2 separate regions of the Homo sapiens genome follow, and region 1 is linked to region 2. A link means that fine-mapping ties the variant in region 2 to the expression of a gene that starts in the linked region. Tissue or cell type: whole blood. Region 2 holds a variant in brackets; the other region holds the start of a gene. All regions are shown on one strand. Distances are from middle to middle.

What was found. PIP is the estimated chance that this variant, and not a neighbour inherited with it, causes the effect.
Region 1: LY86-AS1 starts here. The variant in region 2 is fine-mapped to the expression of LY86-AS1 in whole blood (TOPMed, PIP above 0.99).

What each region holds. Positions count from the first base shown.
Region 1 is chr6:6,618,107-6,626,106 of GRCh38, reverse strand. LY86-AS1 (LY86 antisense RNA 1) reads left to right here and starts at 3,281. Exons shown (of 8, transcript NR_026970.1): 1 at 3,281-3,475. LY86 (lymphocyte antigen 86) reads right to left here. Exons shown (of 5, transcript NM_004271.4): 2 at 1,095-1,181.
Region 2 is chr6:6,677,524-6,688,750 of GRCh38, reverse strand. No RefSeq gene overlaps it. Among named protein-coding and RNA genes, the nearest start is that of LY86-AS1, 60 kb to the right of the region's middle. The variant T/G (reference allele first, on the strand shown) is at 6,322.

The DNA.
Region 1 (8,000 bases), 61 kb after region 2:
GGCCCTGCGTATGAAAGGTGGCTGTTTCTCAAAATACCTGCTTGGAACAAGGTAGTTAATCAGCTGAGCTCCCCACCCTGATGCTATGGCCTTTTAATGTGATGTCTGCAGGTCTGGCTTCTGGAATTTCTCAGTTGCATAGTATCATTTGTTCCCCATGATGGCGGTGGGGTGTGGTCACGCCTACATACACCTGCTGCTGTTGCCAGGGAGGTATTGCAGCACAGGTGCACAGGAAGCTGCAGCGGGTTCCATGGTGGTGGCTTCCAATTCTCTCTTTTTCTCCATTCCTCCCTTTTATGTTCCACCCACTCTTCTATTTCTCTTTTCTCGCTTTTTCTCTCCCCATAACATTTCTCCAGCTGCTGCTAGAGTCCAGATACTGTGTAAGATTCTAGAAATACAAAGATGCGTGAGAGTTCTTGATTTCTATGAATGTTCCCTCCATTTCTCTGGAATGATTCCACATGCTAAGTTTATTAAACCTCTCTACTTTGATTTTGATATAACTGCTTTGGAAAAGGAGGTCGTCTAGTAGCTATAGAAAATATATTGACCAACTATAATTGCATGATCATATGAAAATTAAACAATCAGAAAGTGCTCTAGCTTACTGATTGGGGTAGGAGAGAAAATATTACATCTCCTCCTTGCCGATGTCAAAGTTTAAGAATTTGTATTAACTATTTGGGATACAAAATAACACAAATGACAAACCGTACCGCTGGTAGTAGATTTATTTGTTGCTGAGATAACTAAAAAAGTTAGGAGATCCTGAGTAGACATTAATACTTAATCTCAAAATATTTTCCTTTTTTTTTGCTGGGTATACTGATTCCAGGTGCTTATATCATCCAAATGAGTGCCTAGAGTCTTTTTAATACAAAAGTACAGCTTTAAGTGAGAGTTCTACCCTACCTGAATATAACCCAGAGAAAGATTTGAAAATGAAGATATAAATAGAGTTAATTCCAGAGAGTGGTGAGGGAACAGTAGTTTAGCCAGTCATTACAGTTAACATAAGTCATTGGGTGTGTGGAGTTGGAAGAGGCTGTGCAATGTTTTATTTCATGCTAATCATTTTTTTTACTTACTCAGAATAATTCCAAATCTAATGTTGATATTTGATTTTAATTGCTTGGAACACTTTTCAACAGAAAAGCCAAAATCTTGTAATGGATCTACGAAGAAGAAAACAATAGATTAGTTGCGAGTACATCGTATATTTTGCAAACATATTCAAAATTTGCAACAATATTGTTTTCACATGAATTGCTACATTTATTCAAAAGCATATTGCCCAACACTTTTTAAAATAAGCCCATGATATTTTCATCAGCTCCCCCCCGTGTCTTCAAAGCCAACATCATGTTCACTCTGACAACAGGGGGCCTCCATCCATGGAATAAACAGGGTCTTGCTAGTTGGGTTATATCTTTACTTGTTAATGTTTTTATCATAGAAAATGTTTATCATTGCCTGAATTTTTTTAGTTCCTGAACGTTTGGCCTTAAAATTGCTCATGGATTGCATAGCGGATTTAATAAAGTATCTATTATTATTATCAAAACAGAGGGAGATACAAAAGTTAGGAGAGCTTGAGTAGACATTAATACTTAGGCTCAAAATATTTTCTAAAAAGATTTTCAAAGTTAAGACCTGCCTTTCTAATTCCATTTTATCCCATCCCATCCCAACCCATCCCATCCCATCCCATCCCATCCCATCCCATTTAATGTAATGCTTCCTCCTCCAAATATTCCACTATGTACAAGGTATTGTGTTAGATATGATAGGGGCTATAAAGATAATATTTTCTGCATACAACTTCTGCTCATTCACAAAGCTCCAATGGCTTATCTATGCCTCAGAATACAGTCCAGAAATGAGCGACTGGCTCCAACTTCCATCCTCCACATCACAAATCCATCCTTCATTCCTTGAGGCCAGAGTGGCAACATACACACCAGCACATTCCCACCATGTTTGATTTGCTTGTGTGCTTTCTCCCATTTGCAATGGTCTTAGTCTTTTTGGCCATTATCTAAATCCTCAGGTCTTGCTCATTCCCATCTTCTTTGTGAAGGCTTCCCTGCCCCCATATATTCTCTTGCTTCCTTGAACTCTTAAAACAGCGATGTCTGGCATTCTTGGTAAAGTGTACAAACATGTATCACTCTGCACTTTGCTACGTGGCTTATCCTGCAACACTGAATCTAAACATGAGATTTCTTAAAGGCCAGAGCTGGTTTCTTGTTTTGTTTTGTTTGTTTTGCTTTCCATTTCCTTTTCCTTTATGTTTCCCACTGGACTGGAGATAGGAGAGCTATTTTTAACAGAGGGTTTACCTTGTACTAATAGCTGAGCCTTGTACTTTAGGAGTGTTTTCCATTTAATTCTCTAGGTTCCCCAACACCTAGCAGAGAGCCTCACAGCCTCACAGTCTGATCCACAGTAAGCACTCCATAAATGTACATGTTGAGTGAATGGATGGGCCATATATTGGGGCTGTTTCTCAGCTCCAAATCCAGCCCTCTTTCCTCTGCTTTTTCACTGGGCTCTCGGTAATCATGTTTCTCCTTCACTGTCTGCCAGTCAAGGTAGCAGAGAGATGGAGGCTGGAGTCGAAGAAGGGACTTGCTCCTTCGTGAGTACTTGCTGGGAGTGTCACTGGTGATGGCCCATCATGTTGGCAGTGGCAGTTGGTTCCAGTTTCCAGCTCTCTTGCACCTTCCCAGCTTCAGCTGAGACTCAGCTCTGCGGGGCCCTAAGCTACTGCAGTAACAGCACATCAGAAGCTGTCACCCTTTCCTTAGCAGCCTGTGTCTCAGCTCCACAGGGTCCTTCTGTCAAGCATCCAGTTTCTAATCCCCACAACCTCTGCCTTTTGCTCTCCCAGCCTTCAGGGGTCCTTTCTTTGCTCTTTTGGTTCTCCAGCAACTGGTTCTCTAACCAACTTCCTATATCAAATTCTCTCTGTTAAAATAACTGATATGGTCTTCGTTTTCCTGACAGCACCCAGACCTGCAGAATAAACAATAATCTGAAGAGATAGGTATGATTTACCTCATTTTACTGTTACGAAAATATAGACTCGGAGATGTTGTATTAACTTATCTAGATCCCCACACTAGAAAGTGTCAGAGTCAAGATTCAAAGCCAGAGTTAAAACCAAACAAACAAACAAATTGCTCCCGGGTATTGTGCAGTGAAACTCACAAAGTAGAACCTCAACTACATATGTTACTTATTTGATTTGTAAGATTGCCCAGAATATTTTGTGTGCAGGCATATGGCATCTGGTAGTTCTGTTTCATAACTGATTTCCATTTCAGCTTAGCTATGAGCTCACATTTGCCAATGTAGTGTTCCAGACAGTTTTATCATCCACATTGCTGACCTGGAAGATGCATCATTGTCTATGATATCTGCAATGGAAATGATCACTAGGCAATTTCAGCCTTGCAAATCTAACGTAAGTACACTTTTGTTTGATCAAAACCCCTTTGGTCCAGTCACTAATTTTCCTAAGGGTGGGAAAGAGCCCTTTTGTCTTATGCTCATTGGACTCCTTCCTAAGTATCTCTGTGCTGTCCCAGGGTTTCTTTCAGCCTGGAAAATAGGAGCAGGGGGTTGGAGACGATAGTTCCTGCTACATCCTTGGCACTCAGTATTGAAAAAGACAGAAGCCAATGAACAGATGCTTAGGAAGGTGAATCCTCAAAATTGTGGATAAATTTAAGTTGCTATCCAGGCAAAATAAAAGAGGCTAAGTACGTATTGTGTTGTTGATTAGCAGCTATAGAATTACACTGTATGTTTATCAATATTTTAAAGGTATAGATAGAAAGAATCAACTAAGGGCGGGAGAAGGAAATAAAGCATTTTCTTGGTACTAGAAACACATTGTTGTTAGGAAAATAATCTCAATAAAGAACAAAGTCACAAAGAAAGCTGTAGGCTGCATCTCTCTGAGGATATGTATATAAAAGCAGAAAGACAGATTGCTTAAAAAGCGCTTAAGGGTTTGGTGAGCTTTCCTAGCAGTTATTTCAAATTTATATGCAAGAGTGATATCTTTGAGTGTAAACATGCAGTTTGTGGTCCTCTTGGGGAAAGTGACATTGGTTCTTCCTCCTCCCCCAACCCCACCCTCTCAAACTCATATCCTTCTCTGTATTTATTTGCATTTCCACTCAGGCACTTTGCATGTTTTATATTACATTATATTTGTTTGTATACCTCTGTCATTCCTCCACTAGATACTGCAAAGCTAACTCCCCAGTGCCAGGGCTATACATAATGTCTTAATATCATACTAAATCTCCAGTGATTGTTTGCTGGATGAATAGTAGTGGTTATTTGTAGTAAATTTGCCGAGAACCTTAAAGCAGGATTCCTCAATGTCATCACTATTGACATTTTGTTTTGGATATCCTTTGTGGTGGGTGCTGTTCTGCACATCATAGGATGTCTAGAAGCATCCCTGGTCTCTACCCACCAGATGCCAGTAGCATCCCCATACCCTCTAGTTGTGAAACCAAAAATATCTCTAGACCTTACCAAAGTATCCATGAGGGATAAACTCACCCCTGGTGGCGATCACTGCTTTAAATAATCACTGTATCAATTTCCAGGCTTTACCTATCCTGCAAATGCCTCAGAATCACCTACCAATATAAAAGATGGTAGGTTGCATTTTAAAGTAGTTCTCCTTCTACAGTATGAACAGTGACGGACAGGCTGAGAGCGGAGAGACTTTCCCTTGGACCCTTGCCTCAGTAACTTTTAATACATGTAAGACGGATCATCTGACTTTGGACTTTCTGAAGCAATAACATCGGAAAGTTAATCAGAGTTGGCGTTCTGGGAATTCAAGGGCAGAGATAAGTGTTTCCTCCAGATACTTCACTGTATTTCAGCAAATGACCTGAGGAAAGAAGTCAAAACTTCATCACGAAATAGAAGACTGTTCATTTTCAATATTTCTTCCTTGGCCTCTATGTGGCACTCCCTTGCTGTCTGTCCTGTTGACTTCTATGGCTTCCACCCAAGGGAGGACAGCATTATAGTGGGTGAATCCAGCACACCCCAAACTGCCCCTGCTCCCCTCTCCCCCGGGCATGTGGGCCCTCGAAGGCAGGCTTCTCCAAACCAGCAGCATGTGAACCCTGCCAGAAGTGAGGAAGAGCTCTAGGAGAGCAGCCAGCAGCATCTGTTTTGCATACAAAGGGCAGCAACAATCAAATCTCTTCTAGAAAAGTTTTCTTGGACATTCATGGAGTAAAATAGAGTTGGATAAACAAGCCAGGTTTAGAGTGAGCAGCGTTTGAACAAATATCAGCTCCAAAGGTATTGTTGTGCCTTCCACCCTCCATTAGTGGCCTAGGCTGGGCTAGACCTGGGCAGCTGTCGAGGGGAGGACAACCTTGTCAGAATGGCTTCTATTAACAGCTAGCAGTGGGCTTTCAACTGGAATCAGTAGGAAGAAGACAAAATCCAATGACACAGACTCTGGAAGTGAAATTCCTCAGCAGAGGATGGTGGGGGCCCGGGTACACTCCACTGGACCAATCCTTGATTTGACTTCAGGCAGCCGGAAAGCTTGGATGTATGTCCCTAAGTCCTGGAGGCCATGGATGTAGCTCCGCCCCCTGTGGCCTCTGCGTTGCTGGCTGGTTAGTTTGAGGCATAGAGGAGGGCCCAACTCTTACACAGCTAGTCCCATTTTCCATATTCTAGCTCTACTTGAGGTTTTTCTTTAGCTTTATATTTTGAAATAATTATATTTTCACAGGAAGTTGCAAAAAGATACAGAGAGGTCTCATATGTCTTTCCCCATCATCCCCCATGGTAAGATCTTACATGGAGGACAATACCAAAACTGGGACATTGACACTGATACAATCCACAAAGTTTATTCAGATGTCACCAGTTTAACAATCATTCGTGTGTGTGTGTGTACAAGCGCATGTATGTGCCTGTTTTTTACATTTCTATTGCTTGGGTTTAAAATGGTTAGAAATTGGTCTTCCTCCTCTCAGGGGAAGGTAGAATTCTTACAGCAGAGTCGCTGTGAAAAGGAGCTGACCCCCCTCCAATCTCACTTCCACCAGCCTTCCACATACTCATGGCCAAGTGCAACCCCAAGATTGCAATGTCCTTCCTGCTTTGTAAAGGTAGTCTTTCTCCCCCTCCCTTTCTCCTAGCTCTCCTCTTCTCTCTTCCTGTCTCTCATTCTTTCCCTCTCTCCCTGTCTCCCTCCCTTTCTCTCTCTCTGTTTCTCTTTTTCTTCTCATACCAGTACTTAGATCTGGCTACCATCCTGAGATTAAGAACACTGACTTTTCTTCAAACACATCTTAACATTCATGGCTCATTCCCTGTGGCCCACATTACTCTAAGAGCTGGTATTGCTTCCTGCATGTGCTTTTGGCAGAACACAGGCTGGCCCCAGGAGGATGTTAGGTATTACAAGCATGCTTCCAATAGAGGCACGACCTGCGGAGGAGAAAGGGCGTAGAGGGCCCAGGAGACCTTACCAGCCACAGGCAGCTTAGCTGCACTGGCAAGACTGCCTCTAGCAAACAGTTTATGGAGGGAAGGAAAAATTGGGTTAACAGAATGTGAATAAAGCTGGTCTGCTTCTGACTGCTCAATAAAACAGTACTGGATGGTTGTTTAATAATGGGGGGGTGTGTTAGGGTTCTCTAGAGAAACAGAACCACTTGGCACTGGAGACAGAGTGTCTGAGTGTGGTTGAACTGCTAGTCCCGGGCCAAATAGTAGCAGATATTCCTCTGCATCTTTCAGAATTCTTTCCCAAATGTAACAAAATAACAAACAGACCTTGCTTTTGATTTCTTCTTTTAGGTTGGCTGATGGCCAATTCTGCCAGCTTGTGTTCTATTTATCAAACAGATCTAGTTGGGCATGGATCTAGAAGTCTGTCTTCTTTCATGGCTGTACTTTTACTGGAGTGTCTTAATTTTCTTGGCGAATTCATAGGATGACGTTCAAGGGTCACCGTAGACCTTTACAGGAGGATGATGCATAAGGCTTCAGTAAAATCGCATTGCTGGAAATCCATTACCAGCACAATGCAAAATTAACTTTCTTCTTTTCTGTCCTTAATGCCACTGTGTTCCCTCCTCCTCCTCCCCTCATACTCCCTCCCCACCTTTGTGGAAAAAGAAATAATTTACAATGTGGTAAATGTATTCTAGCTGTGGTTTTCTATTATGTCCTGATCTCTTCTTTTTTCTACCTGTCAAATCTTATTACTGTAGCACAGCAAGGCTCCCCAATGGGTCATTATTTCAAATAATAGTAGTTCCACTCCCATTTGACTCTCTTATGCCAGCATTTCCTCGGGAATTGACTCACACATTCAAGTCATACGTATGAACTGGCTTCCGGTTTCATCTCAGATATGTAAACGGTGTGTTCAAAATACTTAAACATGTTTCTTGCTATCAAATGCAACAAAAATAAAATGAACACCATCATAATGGAATATCGACTATTTGTGATATGAGATGGTAAAATCTGCAACATCCTGCTGGCTGCCTGGCAACCTTGGTGAATATGTTTTTGAGTGAGAAGGTATGTTTGGGCTGCTAAACTCAAAATTCTGGATCCCTAGCTTGTCTGCTTTTAATTGCAAAAAAAAAAAAATTGAATTCATAATAAGCCTTTTTATTGACAGAAAAGGAGTAGGAATCTTGCATGGCCCCTCTGGCCTCTAAGTTCCACTTTCTCAGAATAACCTAAGTTTGGCTTCTATCAGCATAGGAGGAGATGGCTTTTCTATCATGATATAAACATGAGAGACCATAACAGATGAGTGGCAATGAAGACACTCTTCTGCCCAAAATATCTTGCCAAATGTCTTGAGGAAAATAATGACCTAATTGAGGCAGTTTTGTCTGATCTTTGCATCTTAGGAGTAGATCAACAATGCGCTAGCCAGGCGCGGTGGCTCAGGCCTGTAATCCCAG
Region 2 (11,227 bases):
CTGCAGGGGCAGAGGCTTGTGGTAGTCTGTCTTGTGTAGACTTTAAAGCCCATGCTGGTTACATGGTGAAAAATTAGGTTTTGTACATTTTCCTTATGTTTACTTTCCCCCTTTGCTCCTTGCATGACATCTTCACGTCCTTGATATTTATTGATTATTTCAGATAAGAGCCCTTCTGTACATGTTGTGTGTGTGTGTGTGTGTGTATTGAGAAAGGGAAAGGAAGGAAAAAGGGAGAGGAAGGCAAATACAGGGGAACAAAGACAGAGTTTGCACAACCCCTGCTGGGCCAGCAACCTCTGCCAGTGAATGAAAAACAAACCTGAAAAGGACTTTCACTTTCTAAAGCAGTGGTTTCAATAAAGTACTATTTCACACCAGTCAGAATGGCTATTATGAAAAAGTCAAAAAATAACAGATGCTGGAGAGGTTGAGGAGAAAGGGAATACTTACACACTTTGGTGAGAATGCAAATTAATGCAGCCCCTGTGGAAAGCAGTTTGCAGATTTCTTAAAGATCTAAAATAGAATGAATATTAGACCAAGCAATCCCATTACTAGGTATATACCCAAAGGAATATAAATAGTCCTACCAAAAAGACACCTGCACACGTATGTTCATTGCAGCACTGTTCACAATAGTGAAGACATGTGATCAACCCAGGTGCCCATCGACTGTGGACTGGATTAAAAAAATGTGGTACATATTTTTATACCACATTTTTTTGGCCATGGAATACTGTGCAGTCATAAAAAACAAGGAAATCATGTCCTTTGCAGCAACATGGATGCAGCTGGCAGTCGTTATTCTAAGCAAACTAATGCAGAAACAGAAAACCAAATGCCACATGCTCTCACTTATAAGTGGGATCTAAACACTGGGTACATAAGGACATAAACATGGGAATAACAGACACCAGGGACCCCAAAAGGAAGGAGGGAGAGGGGGGCAATGGAAGAAAACCTAACTATCCGGTACTATGTTGGGCGACTGGATCATCATCAGAAGCACAAACCTTATCATAACGCAATATACTTATGTAACAAACCTGCATACAAATACCCCTGAATCTAAAATAAATAAAACAATGGTTCGGGGGAATAGGCTGGTGAGGCTCTTGGCCAGATTGTAGTGCTCTGGGGAGGGTAGAGCTGTCAGGATAAGAGGACCAAATACAGAGAACTTGGAACCCCACGATGAGAAATTTGCATTTAATTGGCAGTGAAGAGCAATGGAAAATATGTGTGCCAGGGAGCGCCAGGTGCAGGCTCACTGGAGTGGAGGGAGCCTGGGGCTGGGGAGGCGCACTGGGCTGCTGTTGGAACCCTCCGGAGGGCGGAACTGCGGCGGGAGCTGTAGGAATGCTGTGGAGCTAACAGTCAGGAAGGACATTTCAGAGGTCTGTGACTGGCCACTGACCTGATCAGGAGTGCAGGAAGCGGCAGGAGGCAGAGATGGCTCCCAGCCAGGATCCGGAGGCCCGGGAGGGGCGGGTCTTCCAGCCTGGAGGGTGAGGCCTGGAGTGGGCGGGGCTCCCAGCCAGGAGGGTGAGGACTGGAGTGGGCGGGGCTTCCAGCCAGGAGATGAGGCCTGGAATGGGCGGGGCTCTCAGCCTGGAGGGTGAGGACTGGAGTGGGCGGGGCTTCCAGCCAGGAGATGAGGCCTGGAATGGGCGGGGCTCTCAGCCTGGAAAGGCGGACTGGAGGGGGCGGGGCTCCCAGCCAGGAGCTGAAAGCCCCGGAGGAGGAGGCCCAGGAAGGGGCGGGGCTCCCAGCCGGTAATGGGAGGCCTGGAGGGGGATGGACTTTAAAAAGGAAGCAGAAAGGCCAGGAGGACGAGCTTCACTGGAGGTGGGTAAGTTTTGTTTCAGACCTGTAGGGCTGAAAGTGTTGACGAACACCTGGGAGAAAATGTCCAGTCACCGTCACTGCAAATGCGGGTCCGACCTTCAGGAGAGGGATTTGGACTGAAGATGTGGGTAGGAGCACCCTCTCTTAGACAAGAAAAATTGAGACTAAGAGGAGATGAGATCGCTGGGGGATCATAATTAAGTAAAAACTTGTATCTCTAAAATCCGTCCTGACATTTTCATTTATAGGATATACATATGTATGTATCTGTTATAATCTGAAATGTGTCCCTCAAAATTCATATTTGAAGCCCTAACCTCCTCATACCTCAGACTGGGACTGTATTTGGAGATGAGGCCTTTAAAAAGATAATTAAGGTAAAACGAAGGCATTAGAATGGGCTCTAATCCAATATGTCAGGAGTCCTTATAGGAAGAGGAGATGAGGACACAGACACCCACAGAGGGAAGACGGTGTGAGGACACAGGGAGAGGACACCATCTGCAAGCCCAGGAGGGAGGCCTCAGGAGAAACCAATCCCGCCCACACCTGGATGTGGGGCTTCCAGCCCCCAGCACTGCGAGGGAATAAAGCTCCGTTGTGTAAGCTGCCGCATCTGTGGTATTTTATTATGGCAGCCCCAGCTACTAATACAGTACCCCTACCGATACATACATATTTACCCACATGTAGCCACACACATGTGCACATATGTAATCTTTTTGCCTATAAAAAAGTAAGCAATGCCTAAAAGTACAGGTGGAGAGAAGGCTAAAAAGCACAGGCTCGAAGAGACTGCCAAGATACAACGATCCAACAAAGACACATCGTATCAACAGTAATGATTTCCTAAATGTGAAGGTAATTTGGATGGCTGGTTTATAGTTTTCATGCCCGGGAGTTTTCCAAGGCACAATGTATACCCTTTGCGGCAGCTTACTCTCCTGAAATGTGCCTTCATGAAATTAGATAAACAGGGAGAAGATATGAAGTACATCTGCCTAACACCACGTTAGAAGAATCCCCGGGCATTTGCATCTTATGCGATGATATGCTGGCAAACCTTGGCCAACTTCCAGTCTTGTCCTTATGACAGGGGACTGCTGTGTTGAGTTCCCGTCTCAGGCCTCACATCCACCTTGGCCCTGCCTTGGGAGCCTGTAGGTGTGGGCAGAAAAGAGGGACGCTGCCTTCCTGGCTGGGCCTTTCTTCACACACAGGCACGAGGACCCAAGCTCTAAAGGATGAAGTCCCCATGGTCTCCGAAGTTTTCATTATCATCCCCCTCCTAAAGCTCCACCTTGGAGGCAATGCACTGTAACAAAAGGACCAGCACAGTGCCCAGCACACAGAAAGCTATCAATCAATGTCAGCCTTAACCATTATGTTGGTTGACTTGCCATCCCTCTTCCTCAACTGCAAACTATGTGAGAGAAAGATTCATGTAACCTTGGTATTACACAACTCCATCGTGGTGGGTTCAGTTGCATTTGTCAAATGATTCAGAGTAGGACAACGGGAATTTTCTTTACAACATCACAGCATTGTAAAGTCTTTGCTTTGCACGAAAGTGTGGGACTGAAGAAATGATTGTGCAGGTTGAAACTGTGAAGCAATTTTAAGAAGCAACAAGGAAAATTATGATTGTTTCATAATCTTCAAAAAATTTTTAAAGTGTTAAGAACTGTTTTACTACTGGTCGTAAATGTATAAGAACATTTAAAGATAGCAAATTGAATACTTATTTAGCCTGTCATAATTTAAAAAATGAGAAACATTGAGAAATAGTGTTTTATTTCTTTGTAAAAGACTTATGGAGAGTAAATTGAAAAGGGCTTTGCCACCTTCTCATTGTGAAACTTACAGTATGGACCAGGCATCTTTTCTATGCCTTGGCAAATTGTCACATTCCTTTCTATATTTGGATAGGCTTCCTACATTTTGTCCTGCACACTTTCAGTGCTGTGAAATATCTCCAAGAGTTTCTTTAATATGAAGTTTTTGCCAGCATCTTTATCCTGAGTCCCTCAAAAGACACATCCAGAATCTCTCAAAAGACAACAGCATCAACTTTCCCACCATCAGCTCTTTCTTCTCTAAACTCGTTTACGTCTGAGTCAACTTTCACCTCCTGCATTCTCACTTTTTGTTTCTTTGCTATACTTTCCTCTTCATTGGCTACCTACCTCTCTTGAGTATTCATTTCTGTGAAATGTCACGTGGGTTTGTCACTGGGAGCCAAGAGAGCAGCACGACCACACGCTTTGCTGTCTGTGTGGGAACTGATAACACGGAAGGACTGAAGGACGTGATGCGGTTAATCACTGATCATGATGCACATCTGTTATTACGTGGTGGTCTGTGGACTGCAGAGCAAGCAGCAGAGGTTGTCCCCCATGCAATCACTCACAGTTAATGGTGACTGAAATTGGAACCATGTTGTTAGGGGGCTGGTGTTATTTAACCTCAGTTGCCACAGGGCAATGAAAATTCGTGCGTTTGGGAACTATGCAAGGTGAGGACTGCCTGAATGTTCCATAATGTGATGAGTGCCTCACAAACAGGGTGTATATTATCACTGAGTTTTTTCATTATTCTTGACCTTCAATATATAGACATTCTTGTTGATGGTATCAGGTTGTTTCTGCGTGAATGAGCTTTACTCCTCTGAGAAATGGCATTCCTGACCCTCCTCTTTGAATCAATTGCACAAAAGTATCTGAAGGAAATTTGCTTACCTGCTGCTTTCTATGGAAGCTTTCCTGCAGCATGACCTAGTGTCTGTTTCTGGTTGATGATTAACCATGGGGAACAAGCGTTTGAGATAAAGAAGTTGCAGAACTTTTTAGAGAATGTAATATGTTAATGTGCACTGGGACTCTCCCTGAGCTATATCAAGTTTCCTGGATTCTGAAATGCTATAATTTTAAAAGTGTCATAAGGTTAAAACAGCTTTCTAAGAAGTGCCTTTGTTGGAAGAATACCCAGGAATGGTGCGCTGGACAGCTTTTGTACAAGTCTTGCATTTTCTCAGAACTATCTCTCATCTTGGCCATGGCATCAGTCACATCCTGAGTGGCTCACCTTGACTTGGGTTGCCTCCTACTGCAGTTCTCCTAAACTCTGGTGGGGGACACGGGCACAACCCACCCAATACTCGTATGTGCTTTACCTGGAAATAAGGAGCAGAGGAGCTAGGGGAAGGAGCCGATGGCTAAATGTTCCTGCCTTTTTTCCCTCAGGCAGACAGTTCTAAGGTGCACGCTGTAGGTTGCTGGGACAACCCTGGCAAGATCTTCCCCCAGACATCCACCTTGGCGGCCGACTTATTAACTCATTGGTCTATTGACTTTTGCTCCTTGCCTCGCCCCTGATCCCTGTGCCCTCTTTCTAATAAGCTACCTGCTGGTGAGGCTCTGCCTTGGGGGAAACCCAGGCTGAGGCAGGTGGGATGTTATAACCAGGGAGGCCTGAGTCCTGGGTCTTTGCCTGGGGTCCCCAAATAGGAGAGGGATTGGAGGAGGTATTGTGGGGGAGAGTGTTGCAAAAGCCCAGAGGAAAGGAGTGCTGTTACCACAACAGAGGAGACATGAACCTGCACAGACCAAAAACAGGAGAGAGAGAGGGAAAGAGAAAGAGAAGGGGGAGAAAGAAAGGGAGAGACAGAGGAAGGGAGAGATGGGGAAAGAGGAGAGGAGAAAGGGAGGGAGAGAAAGAAAGGAGATGGAGAGAGAAAAGGGTGGGGAGAGAGATAAAGAGAGAGGTAAAGAGAGAGAGAGAATCATCTACTACATGATTTCTTTTTTTTTTTTTTCTGAGATGGAGTTTCGCTCTTGTTGCCCAGGCTGGAGTGCAGTGGCGTGATCTCGGCTCACTGCAACCTCCATCTCCCGGGTTCAAGCGATTCTCCTACCTCAGCTTCCTGAGTAGCTGGGATTACAGGTGCCTGCCACCACGCCCAGCTAATTTTTGTATTTTTGGTAGAGACGGGGTTTCACCGTGTTGACCAGGCTGGTCTCGAACTCCTGACCTCAGGTGATCCGCCCGCCTCGGCCTCCCAAAGTGCTGGGATTACAGGTGTGAGCCACCGCGCCTGGCCATGATTTTTTTTTTAACCTATAAAAGCCTTGAGTAGTGATGGACGCGATTCCTAGTAATGTGGTTTACTAAAGGGTCAGGCTGTCAGTTCACCACAAATACGCCACAGTAGTGTTTGGTATTCTCTCAATGTTCCACCCACCAGAGCATACAAAACAGCCACATTCCCCAAACACTTAATTCTCAAAACATACTTGTAGAGGAGGGAAGCCTATTACTCCCATTAGAAAGATGGAAAACCAAGGTGAAATGATTAACTGAGCTACCAGGGCCTCAGAAGAAAGTCGCTGCTGAGTTTGGGATTGTGTTTTCAACTTCCTGCCCACTGTGGGTGAGCTCCACCTTTTACTGGAACCAACTCCAAGGAGGAAG[T/G]TTTGCTGGGTTTCCTGGAAGGCAGAGGTTTGCATCTGCATGCCCTGCGTGGAGGCATTGTATTTGGGGGCAGGCAGGAGAATACTGTAGCTGGTGTGCCCACAGAAAGGGAGGGAGAGAAGCCACTGGGAGTGAGCTGGGCTTGGGATCGGGCTGTGTCCTCACCAACTGTCTGCCCAGGCATGAACTTGCCACTGCTGTGGAAGAGTCTGACTGCATCCAAGAATGCCAAAGGTTGTGGCTGAACTCACTTCTCAACAGACTTGGATCATGTTCATATACTATTCTTTAAAAGATCACCATTTGTAGTAGAATGTCAAAAACCCAAAGATGTTGCTCCCGATGTTGAGCTGTAACTATTTTCTGTGTTGGTGGAAAAATATGAGAGAATTAGTTGCCATTCATGAATCTCAGTGATACACAGACAAAAGCATGCTTCAATTTTGTTTCTTTGTTTTTGAGTGGTTCTGATTTATTTTCAGCTTTTGGGTGATGTCTGGGGCTGTTTATTGAGGACGGGATAAATGGGGGGGGGACCAAAATATATTTGGCATTTATTGGTGGTGTTTTATATTTGTGACTTGATTTACTTCTTATCACAACCCAGTGAGACACGTACTATTATCATCCTTTTAATAGATGAGCAGCCTGGAGCTTAGAGAGGTTAGGTAGCATGGACATCATCAGGCAAGTTAAATGAGAAAGCCGCCACCCATTCCCAGCTGGGGCTGACCCCAGCGCCTGTGTTATTTCTGTTGCCCTGAGCCTCCCCAGGCTTCTTAACCCACATGTACTCCTAGCTTCCAGCAGTGCTAATTTACACCGTGTACCAGCTGGAGACATTCTGGAGTGTAGACTGACGCAATAATCCCCAATGATAGGTTTGCCATGTTTTTTTTAAATGTGTTTTTTCCTACTTTTTATTATAGATGTCAGAATTTTCTCCTTCCCTGAGTTATCTTTGGACTTAGATGTATATAAATGTATCTGGTTGGAGGTGGGGGGAAAAGTGGAAGTGGAAGACCACAAAAGTAAAAATTACATTTGAGTGTATTTCACCGATTCTAAGAGGAATGCTTTCTTCTGCTCCAACCACTCTGAAATCTCCGGGTCCCATACTCCCATCGCAGCTGTGTGACATGGTTGCCGTGGCCTTTGTGTGAACATCAAAGCTCAGAGGATGGGTGTCAGAGGCTTAGATGAAAATCCTGAAGACAATTGTCTGGCACTTTTCAAAGCTATACGGCCTCACCAAAACCCTCCTGGAAGCTCTTGATGGCTCGAGGTTCAACAGTGTCTGGGAAGACATGGATATAAAAGATCCAGAATCAAAGAGTGATTCCAAAGAGTTAGAGGCTGACTGTGAAGTCTTAGGCATACTGTAACCCAGTGATTTACCTATCTTTGCTTTTCTGCTCATGCAGAAGAGTGATATATGATGAATAAATTCTAAGTTCAATTAGGCCTAAAAGAGCTCTTGTAATATGCTTTAAAAAGTCTAAGTGATAAAACATTGTGACAGATAGAGTTCTGTCAGTGTTTATATTTTCTTAGTCCTTCATTAAATAACAGTGTGTCTTACACCAAGGCAGTTTTGGATTCCATAAAATATGGTAGTAGTTATGTTTCATGTTTCAATAGTCATCAATCTGTTTTTAATGTATTCATGGAAAAATATGTGGGCCATCTTGCTATTTAACTATTTTTGAAATCTCATGGAAGCCTGCCAATGTTTTTGCAATTTAGCTAAGAAGCTGTCTTGCTTTTTGAGAGGGGAAGTTCCAATATTGTAAGCCTAGGTTTCTGAATATATTTTTGTTTTTTAATAAATGTAGAAAGAATGTTTTTTGTTAATCCTGGCATTTGTCTAGAGCAAAAGCAAAATAAATGAAAAGTGAGGAAAATTAAAAGGCTCACGTTATAACATGTGCTGTCTAGAGAATAAAAACTCATTTGTGCAAAGTTGGTATGGCTTTTATGAAAATATTTCAGTCCGAGCACCTTGCCTGTTTGCTGCAGTGCTGACTGACTCATGATTAGGGATCTGTGTTGCCTTTATTGCTCTCGGTTTGCCCTATGGCTTGATTTATTAATATATTTAAATATACAATTTTAACCTTATCATTGGTGTGCAGGTGTATTTATTTATACTATCTTTGCTTTTAGAAAAACACTATTATATCATAAAAATATTTTAACCTTAAATTACTTCCCACAGGCTTCAAGTTTTATGCAGTTCATATCTGGGCATAAAGAGAAATCAATATACTGTGGCCTGCAGGGCACCAGCCTTTGGTGTTTGTCAAACGTTTACAGATAACTAATGTCCCACATAAAATAGATCCATTCTTTCCATCTTGCACATCTTGCACCTTTCTTTTTTTTTTTTTTGTATGACCACTGCCGTGTAGCCATCATGTCTGGACTGATAGTAGTTTCTAGGCTTGGAGGAAACTGCATTTTCAAGAAAGCAGGATGCAGACATCCCCTGAGGAACACCTGCATTAAACATAGCCTCCCACCTAAAAAGAGCTCCCTGAGTTGGGAAGTGTCTTATTGGCCTCTCCTTCCGGCCTCTCCCACTCCCTATGCTGAAACCAAGAGCTTCGGGGCTCCCCTCCCTGCCCACCCTGGCAGGGAGCCCAGGGCCCTCGTTGCTCTCCCTGTCTCCTATGCTGTCCGAGAACCCCTGCAGCTCCAGGCCCTGGACCAGCCACAGAGTTTACTTCTACTGTTGCAATACTTTGAAGGGAGAAGAGTTTCAGCCTTTTTGATCAGTGGGGCTTCTACTTAAAATCCTTCCATGGCACCCCATTATCTCAGGGTAACGTCCAGACTCCTAAAGTGGCTTCCAAAGTCCTTCATTATCTGATGGGCCTCTGTGTACTTTCTCTCTCTTCTCTCTCCATTCCTGGCCCTCCTCATCAATTCTCTGGCCATTTTGAACTTGACTCAGTCTCCCCAATGTGCCAGGCTTTCCCTGGCTTCCCGGCTCTGCGGGAGGATGAGAGTGGGCTCAACTGTCTTTTGAGGGAATCCTGGAAACACACCCACCCTGAGAGTCATTGTTTTGATGGAAGTGACATTCCAAACCAACATTTGGAACCAAGTCCTGTAAGCCAGAACCTGCACAGGTTTTGTTAAAGGAATCAATTTAGGCCTGGCACTGAACTCCTTTCTGCTGTAAGACTCTTTTAGAACTTTGGAAGTTTCTATGCAGGGGACTGAGCCATCCTGTCCCTGCCTGGTTGGGCATGAGAAGTCACTTGGAATAGGTCTGAGTGAATGCTGATGAACTCCGACTTAGCTCTGGTAAACAGTGCAAGTTCCCATGAGACTGCAGGGCAAGAACAGGGCAGGCTGCACACCGCGGGGAGAGGCACACCTCGTTCCGTCAAGAGACACCTGGGCCTGGTGCAGGCGCATTCTCCGTGGTTAACGGGTGTGAAATCGGCATTTATCATCAGTGACTTTTCATTGTGTGGCTTCTGTGAGTCCCCACCTTCCTTCTAAACCTCAGCAGGACACTTTCCCTTCCCTGTAGTTCAAATATGCGCCGCAACCTCAGCTTGATCTCAAGCTTTCTATTGCCATGTAAACAATCAGGGAGCCCTGGAATGGTGGGCTCCAGGGGTGGGTGGGTCAGGGCCACCCCCAGGGGTGCAGAGTCTGAAGGGGCTAAACTCCGGGCGGAGGCTGGGGGGCCTCAAAAGCATTTTCATGCAGGTGAGAAAAGGAAAATTTCCAGGGCATCTTGGCTGAAGCACAGAAGTGACTCCCGGAAGACCTGGCATGTGTGAGATGTAGGAGGGATGCTCTGTGCCTGCTTGTGTGTGTGCATGAGTGCGTGTGTGTGTATGTGTGTATGCGTGTACATGTGGTGGGTATGATGAGCCTCGGGGCTCCCTTTAGCATCTGCTGGTGAGTTTACTGTGCCTGCCGACCGTTTCCCAGGTCAGGCCTCCGCCCATGATAACTACTGTTTACCAAACACTTACTGTAGGTCAGTGACTCACATATGTGATCTCATTTCACTCTCCCAACAACCCTGACGTAAGGACTATTATCCCTATTTAACACATGAGGAAAGGGAGGTTTGAGAGCTCTGGTTACTTTTTCACATTCTGAAGCTAGGTGCCTCCACAGCACATGAAATGTTCTGCCGTCGTTCGTCTCCCTGGGACCATATGGAAACGGGGGCTGCTTCCCCTGGAGATCACAAAGGGCTTCTGCAGTAGAGAAAGGAGACTAAGAGCACCTTTCTAGACTTTTCCTTAGCATTCTTCAAGATGTACTATCAGAAGTTCAATAAAAACAACCTAATGCTGAGATTCATGGATAGAAAATTGACTCAACTTCCTGCCTTCCGACGAGCTTATTTTCTTCTTAGCCATTGTAAATTGGTGGAGCCGTGTTCCTCCTTGTCTTAGAAACTTTTAATGGTGCTGTTGCCCTCAGGTTAAGGTCTGGACTCCTTGTGGCTCTCCAAATCCCTCAGAGTCCTTCATTGTCTGAGCAGGCACACTCATCTTCTGTAGTTTAAAAGGTGGCAGTGGCTGGGCGCAGTGGCTCACGCCTGTAATCCCAGCACTTTGGGAGGCCGAGGCAGGCAGATCACCTGAAGTTGGGAGTTTGAGACCAGCCTGACCAACATGGAGAAACCCCGTCTCTACTAAAAATACAAAATTAGCCAGGCGTGGTGGCACATGCCTGTAACCCCAGCTACCCGGGAGGCTGAGGCAGGAGAATCGCTTGAACCTGGGAGGCAGAAGTTGGGGTGAGCTGATATCGCTCCATTGCACTCCAGTCTGGGCAACAAGAGCAAAACTCACTCTCAAAAAAAAAAAAAAGAGTGACAGTAATGACATGATCATTAAACATCTTTCAGGGAAGACTCTATGAGACC